Regions from separate parts of the Homo sapiens genome. Here region 2 is linked to region 1. The links come from fine-mapping of genetic effects on gene expression. A gene starts in region 1. The other region holds a variant in brackets. All regions are shown on one strand. Distances are from middle to middle.

The links. PIP is the estimated chance that this variant, and not a neighbour inherited with it, causes the effect.
Region 2: its variant is fine-mapped to the expression of IL6ST in whole blood (INTERVAL, PIP above 0.99).

What each region holds. Positions count from the first base shown.
Region 1 is chr5:55,993,599-55,996,507 of GRCh38, reverse strand. IL6ST (interleukin 6 cytokine family signal transducer) reads left to right here and starts at 1,545. Exons shown (of 17, transcript NM_002184.4): 1 at 1,545-1,724. It overlaps IL6ST-DT (IL6ST divergent transcript), which reads right to left and starts at 1,341. Exons shown (of 2, transcript NR_102755.1): 1 at 954-1,341. RefSeq lists an enhancer at 992-1,503, cis regulatory regions at 1,092-1,765, 459-2,777 and a silencer at 1,335-1,814.
Region 2 is chr5:56,158,246-56,161,154 of GRCh38, reverse strand. It overlaps ANKRD55 (ankyrin repeat domain 55), which reads left to right. Exons shown (of 12, transcript NM_024669.3): 6 at 1,262-1,322. Among named protein-coding and RNA genes, the nearest start is that of ANKRD55, 74 kb to the left of the region's middle. RefSeq lists an enhancer at 296-1,091. The variant C/G (reference allele first, on the strand shown) is at 1,337.

The sequences.
Region 1 (2,909 bases):
GCCGGAGGATCGTTTGTTGCCAGCAGTTCAAGACCAGCCGGGTCAGCATACCAAAATCTTGTCTCTCCAAAAATTTTAAAAATTGGCCAGGTATTGTAGGGGCACCTGTAGTCTGAGATACTTGGGAGGTTGAGGTGGGAGGATCGCTAGAGCCCAGGAATTTGAACGTGCGGTGAGCATGATCCAGCCACTGCACTCCAGCCTGGGTGACAGAGTGAGACTGTGAACAACAACAAAAAAATCAAGTTTCCTGGATCTATACAAAATTTTCAATTTAACAAATTTTTATAAAAATTTGTTTTAAAATAAACACCCCTCTAAATGGCAAAGCTAGAACAGAATCTGGTCACAATCTATAGGTTAGATATAGGATGACAGGGAGGAGCAAGAGCTGAACACATCAGCTGCAGCACCATCTACTTTGCCTGCGACTCCGTTAGCAGGCCCACTTTGCCCTTTTATAAATTATCTGATCAACAACTAAGAGATTAAAATTCGATCTATGTTTTACTCTATCTGAATCCTCAATATAATGAAGAACTTTATAATTGTTAATTTATGGATATAATTTAAGTTCATTAAACCATTATTTCCTTCCTATATCCTCTCATTCTTCCACAAAAACCTCTACCTTTGGGTGTTTACTTTTACAGACACCCACGCACACACCCCACACGCACGCACGCACATGCCTTATCTTTTAACTCAAGATTCTCATCTTCCTTTGGGGAGAAACAAACATCATGAGCCTTGAGGTCCATTTTCTGAGGGAAAGGGGGGGGCGGAGGCGGGATGAATAGGTTTTTACCCGGTATTTTTTATCATAAACGGGGAGGTACAAACCGCAAAGAAACACTAGTCGCTTGGTGGGCCACCACCTCTGGGGCTCACTGATCAATCGCACCCAAACTCATTTACTAATTTAAAAAAGTACTGTGGCAAGGCTCGTTTACGTAAGTCTTGGAGAGAAGCCGCCGCCACAATCTGCCGCAGTCTCGTGCGGAGTCACGGCCACCGAGCTCTTCACTTTCCCCAAGAGGCTCCCACGCCTTCCCCATCCCCAAGGGAGCTAGGCGGTCCCTCGCGGCTCTGAGTCCCTCGGGGAAGGCCGCGAAGAGAGGCCGCAGGCGCCCTGGCGAGAAGGGAGGGCGGGGGCAGCGGGCGGCGGGCAGCACCCGGGCTCCAGTTCATGACCCCGTTATTCCACAGAAAAATGGAACATTCCGCTCTTTCCGCCCACAGAGGGGAGGTGGGGGGAACCCTTCGATCTAGTCTGGGAGAGGCGACGCGGACGCAGCCACCGGAATCCGGGACGCGAAGAGCCGCGTTACGGGAATCGCTACCCCTCGGAGTCCCGCCCCCTCGTCGACAGGCGGCCACTGGACCAATGCCTGGGCGCAAAGGGTCTCTCAGGGGCCAATCAGCGCCTAGGTCCCGGTAGGGGGCGGGGCGCAGCGTTGGCCGGCCGGGGGCGCAGCTGGGCGGGATTGGGGAGCGCCCCGCCCCGCCGCGGGACTGGGGTGGCGCGCTACCTCTGCGGAGAAGGATCTGACAGTGTTCCGGAGCCGGGGCGAGCAGCCAAAAGGCCCGCGGAGTCGCGCTGGGCCGCCCCGGCGCAGCTGAACCGGGGGCCGCGCCTGCCAGGCCGACGGGTCTGGCCCAGCCTGGCGCCAAGGGGTTCGTGCGCTGTGGAGACGCGGAGGGTCGAGGCGGCGCGGCCTGAGGTGAGGAGGGGCCGGGTGCTGGGTCGCGTAGCTGGAGTTAGAGTGTCGGTGGTTTCGGACGGGCTATCTGGCACTCGAGGAGACCTCCCTTCCCCCTGAGAGCAGCGCCCGGAACTTGTCAGCCCAGCCTGGAAATCCCCACATTCCTTCCCCTTCCTGCTCCCGGACCTCCGAATTCTACTTCCACAACTTTGTCACCTCGATTATCGCAGCCCTGAGTACAAACTTCACCCAGGCGCACGCACGCACCCCTCTTAACGCCCGCCCCGCAGAACGCCCTTCAAGAACAAACCCCCCTTTTTGTTACCAGATCCCACGTTTTTCCCAATCCCCTTTTCATCTCCCCTGAAATTCTATTCGCTCCGCACTTGTCTTCATTCTCGAGGTGGATTTCCCTTCCCCAAAGCCGTTTTTTCATCTTGAAATCGTAACGTTTCAGCTTTGTTGAAAGTTCACAATGCTTATAAACACTATTAACGTTTCTTTCCTTCTTTTGATCTTTTCTATTAATAATTATCATTCCTAACGAATTCCACATCTCACTGTATCCCAAGGAGAACAAATCAGTTTTTAAAATTTTACCTCCTCCGACCTAAACTTTTGAAGATAGTGCAGGAAGCAAGGGTCTGTTCTTCAGTGGATGAACAGCATTTTATTTCATAATCCGAAACTGAAAAAAAAAAAAAATCACAGGTTAAAAATAAGACGTCACCTTTTTTTTTTTTTTTTTTTTTTGCCTTCAGAAGGAAACGCATTTTGGCTTAGTTTGTGAAGTATTTCAACAATTATACTGCCTTAAAATAACTAGTTATTAGAATGCCAGGGTGAATTTTCTGAAAGATTGTGGTATTTGCTTTTGACAGTGCTGTAAACAAACCCTTTAAACTGTGTATGACTGCCAGCTTCAAGTTGGAACAACTCTTAATTTGAAATTACGGACTCAGATCATCAGTTTAGCTGTGTGCCATTATGTTAATTTCTTAAATTCATGTTAATTCCTATTTGGAAGTATTTTTGAACTATGAACTGAAATATTACATTTATAGAACCAACTTGCTATTAAATTGTGCTTTCCAACTATTTCTCTTTAGGGATAATCTTGAACGTTTGTTTTTAATCTTGAGTGAAAGAAAAAAATTACAGGAAGGAGAAAGTGTCAAAAAGGACAGACTGTAGTGGGATTTT
Region 2 (2,909 bases), 160 kb before region 1:
AAAAAAAAAATCTCTCCAGGCAATTCTGAGATGGAGCCAGGGTCCAAACTTCTGGGGTTAAGCACTCTAGAAATAACAGCATGTTCCAGGCATGCTCTATATGTTGTATGCATATTAACTCATTTAATCCTCACACTGAGCTGTGTGATAGGTAGTTTTTATCACTCCTATCTCACAGATGAGGAAGTTTAGGCAGGAAGAAGGTAAGTAACTTGCCTGAGGTCACAGAGCTCATCAGTGGCAGGGCTGGGATGTAAACCCAAGCCATCTGGCTGCAGAGCCCGGGCCCCTCTCCACTATGCTCGGCTGCCCCCCTCTCCCAGATGGAGCGTTGACTTCAGTCAACTGAGCAGGAGATCCAAGTCAGGTAAGAGCCTGAATCTGAGAATCATTGATAGCTGTTTTACACTGATTACTGTCATCTTGTGCTTAGGCATGTGTGTATTTTACAAAGAATGAGCAAACTTGCAAATACTGACAACCTCCTGGTATAATCTATGCATTAAAAAGGCATGACATATGCAGCTAGGAGTGAAGCAGGTCGAAAGCACTCTGTAAGTTTCTATAAAGTGAATCTTGTGCTTAGGCATGTGTGTATAAAGAATAAAGAATAAGTGGCCGGGCACGGTGGCTCACACTTGTAATCCCAGCACTTTGGGAGGCTTAGGCGGGCGGACCACGAGGTCAGGAGATCCAGACCATCCTGGCTAACACGGTGAAACCCCGTCTCTACTAAAAAATAGAAAAAATTAGCAGGGCGTGGTGCGGGGCGCCTGTAGTCCCAGCTACTCGGGAGGCTGAGGCAGGAGGATGGTGCTAATCCGGGAGGCGGAGCTTGCAGTGAGCCAAGTTCGTGCCACTGCACTCGAGCCTGGGCAACAGAGCGAGACTCCATCTCAAAGAAAAAAATCATAATAATAATTGCTACATGATTTTGGATCTTAAAGGGCATGGCTAGGAGACAGAGGCCTGGTGAACACAATGAGCCTAAAGTTTCTCCATCCCCTTGTGCCCCTCGGGAGTGCTGAGATGAAGAGAGGGTGGGAGAGGCAGACAGTAGCCCTCCACACAGGTGTCTTCTAACCTATCACACTCTTGCTTCTTTTCTGTGGATCTTTTTCCCAGAGAAACGGAAAGGGCCCTCATCTTCATTTGGAGTCTTTCAACTGACGGTTTTTCTAAGGTCATGTTTTTATACCGATTCCAAGAGCACCGTGACTGCCTGTTATTTTGAGCCATTTCTCCTATTTTTTCCTTACAGGCTCCTCACGGTCCTGTTGCAACAGTCGAACATCAGCGAGATTAATCACCAGGACAATGAGGTGAGCCACACTCT[C/G]AAGCAACAAGTGGTCATTTTGCATGTGAGGGTGAAAGGAAGGGCGTTTCTGAACCATTGTGCTTCCTCTTAAAAGCTACGGGGAGACATGAGGCATGGTTCTGTGTTCCTACCCTGAAAGGGAGACCTGTTTTCACTATTAATCCTCAGCAGAAACTTATCCCCACCATGGGTGTGTGTAGCTTCTGATAGGGAAGGACTTTATTGCATTAAGTACTTCAGCATTTATCATACGACTGAAATTTTGTAACTTCCCTCTGGACATTGAGAAATAAATATTGCTCTCTCCTGTCTTCTCAAGTCCCAGAAACTTAGTAGCAAGCGGTGGCTCAAGACGTGCTCTCTTTTTTTTTTTTTAAGATGGAGTTTCGCTCTTGTTGCCCAGGCTGGAGTGCAGTGGCACCGTCTTGGCTCACCGCAACCCCCGCCTCCCAGATTCAAGTGATTCTCCTGCCTCAACCTCCCCAGTAGCTGGGATTACAAGCAGGCGCCACCACACCCGGCTAATTTTGTACTTTTAGTAGAGATGGGGTTTCTCCGTGTTGGTCAAGCTGGTCTCAAACTCGCGACCTCAGGTGATCTGCCTGCCTCGGCCTCCCAAAGTGCTGGGATTACAGGCATGAGCCACTGCACTCAGCCTAAGACATGCTCTCTCGTGTAAGATGGCAGAGAGGTGGGTGTAGTGGCGCGTGCCAGTGGTCACAGCTACTCAGGAGGCTGAGGTGGGAGGATCACTTGAGCCCAGAAGTTTGAGAGTCCAGCCTGGCAACAAAGTGAGACCCCCCTCTCTGAAGAAAAAAAAGAAAGAAAAAGGAAAACAATGACAAGACTGGACACTGGCTCATGCCTGTAATCCCAGTGCTCTGGGAGGCCAAGGTGGGAGGCTCACTTGAACCCAGGAGTTTGAGACCAGCCTGGGCAGCAGAGCGAGACTCCATTTCTACAAAAAGTTTAAAAAGTAGCTGGGTGTGGTGGCACATGCCTATAGTCCCAGCTACTCTGGAGGCTGAGGCAGAAGGATCACTTGAGCCCAGAAGTTCAAGGTTACAGTGAGATATGATCACATCACTGCACCCTAGCCTGGGTGACAGAGTGACATCCTGTCCCCCTCCCCTCCAAAAAGAAAAGAAAAAGATGACAGAGAGATAATATTAATAATTCCGGGTTACCTGCTCCAGACATCACATTATTAATCCCAGTGATCGTAACTGCTGTTTAATTCATGTTGCAAGTAGAAGGCTTCCAAAAAGGTCGTTCAACACTCTTCAACAAAGTTCTTGAGGGAAGGTGGCTCAGACACTAAGCAGAGCTGTCCAAGAGTAGCTTAGAGTCTTGTTAGATCTGCTTAACTCTTTTAAAATGCAGTACTAATTTTCCTTAGCCAGGCTGATTTCCTTAACAAGGTTCTTAAAATCAATTTAAATACCTGGTTTTCAATGGAATTTTAAAGTAAATATGTGCTTGGTTTGGTTGCATTTCACTAAGAAAGTCTGATAACATTAAAAATGTACATACACAAAGATGCCGATTACATTATTTTCAAGGAAGCTAGGTGACCATAGGCAAGGGGGCG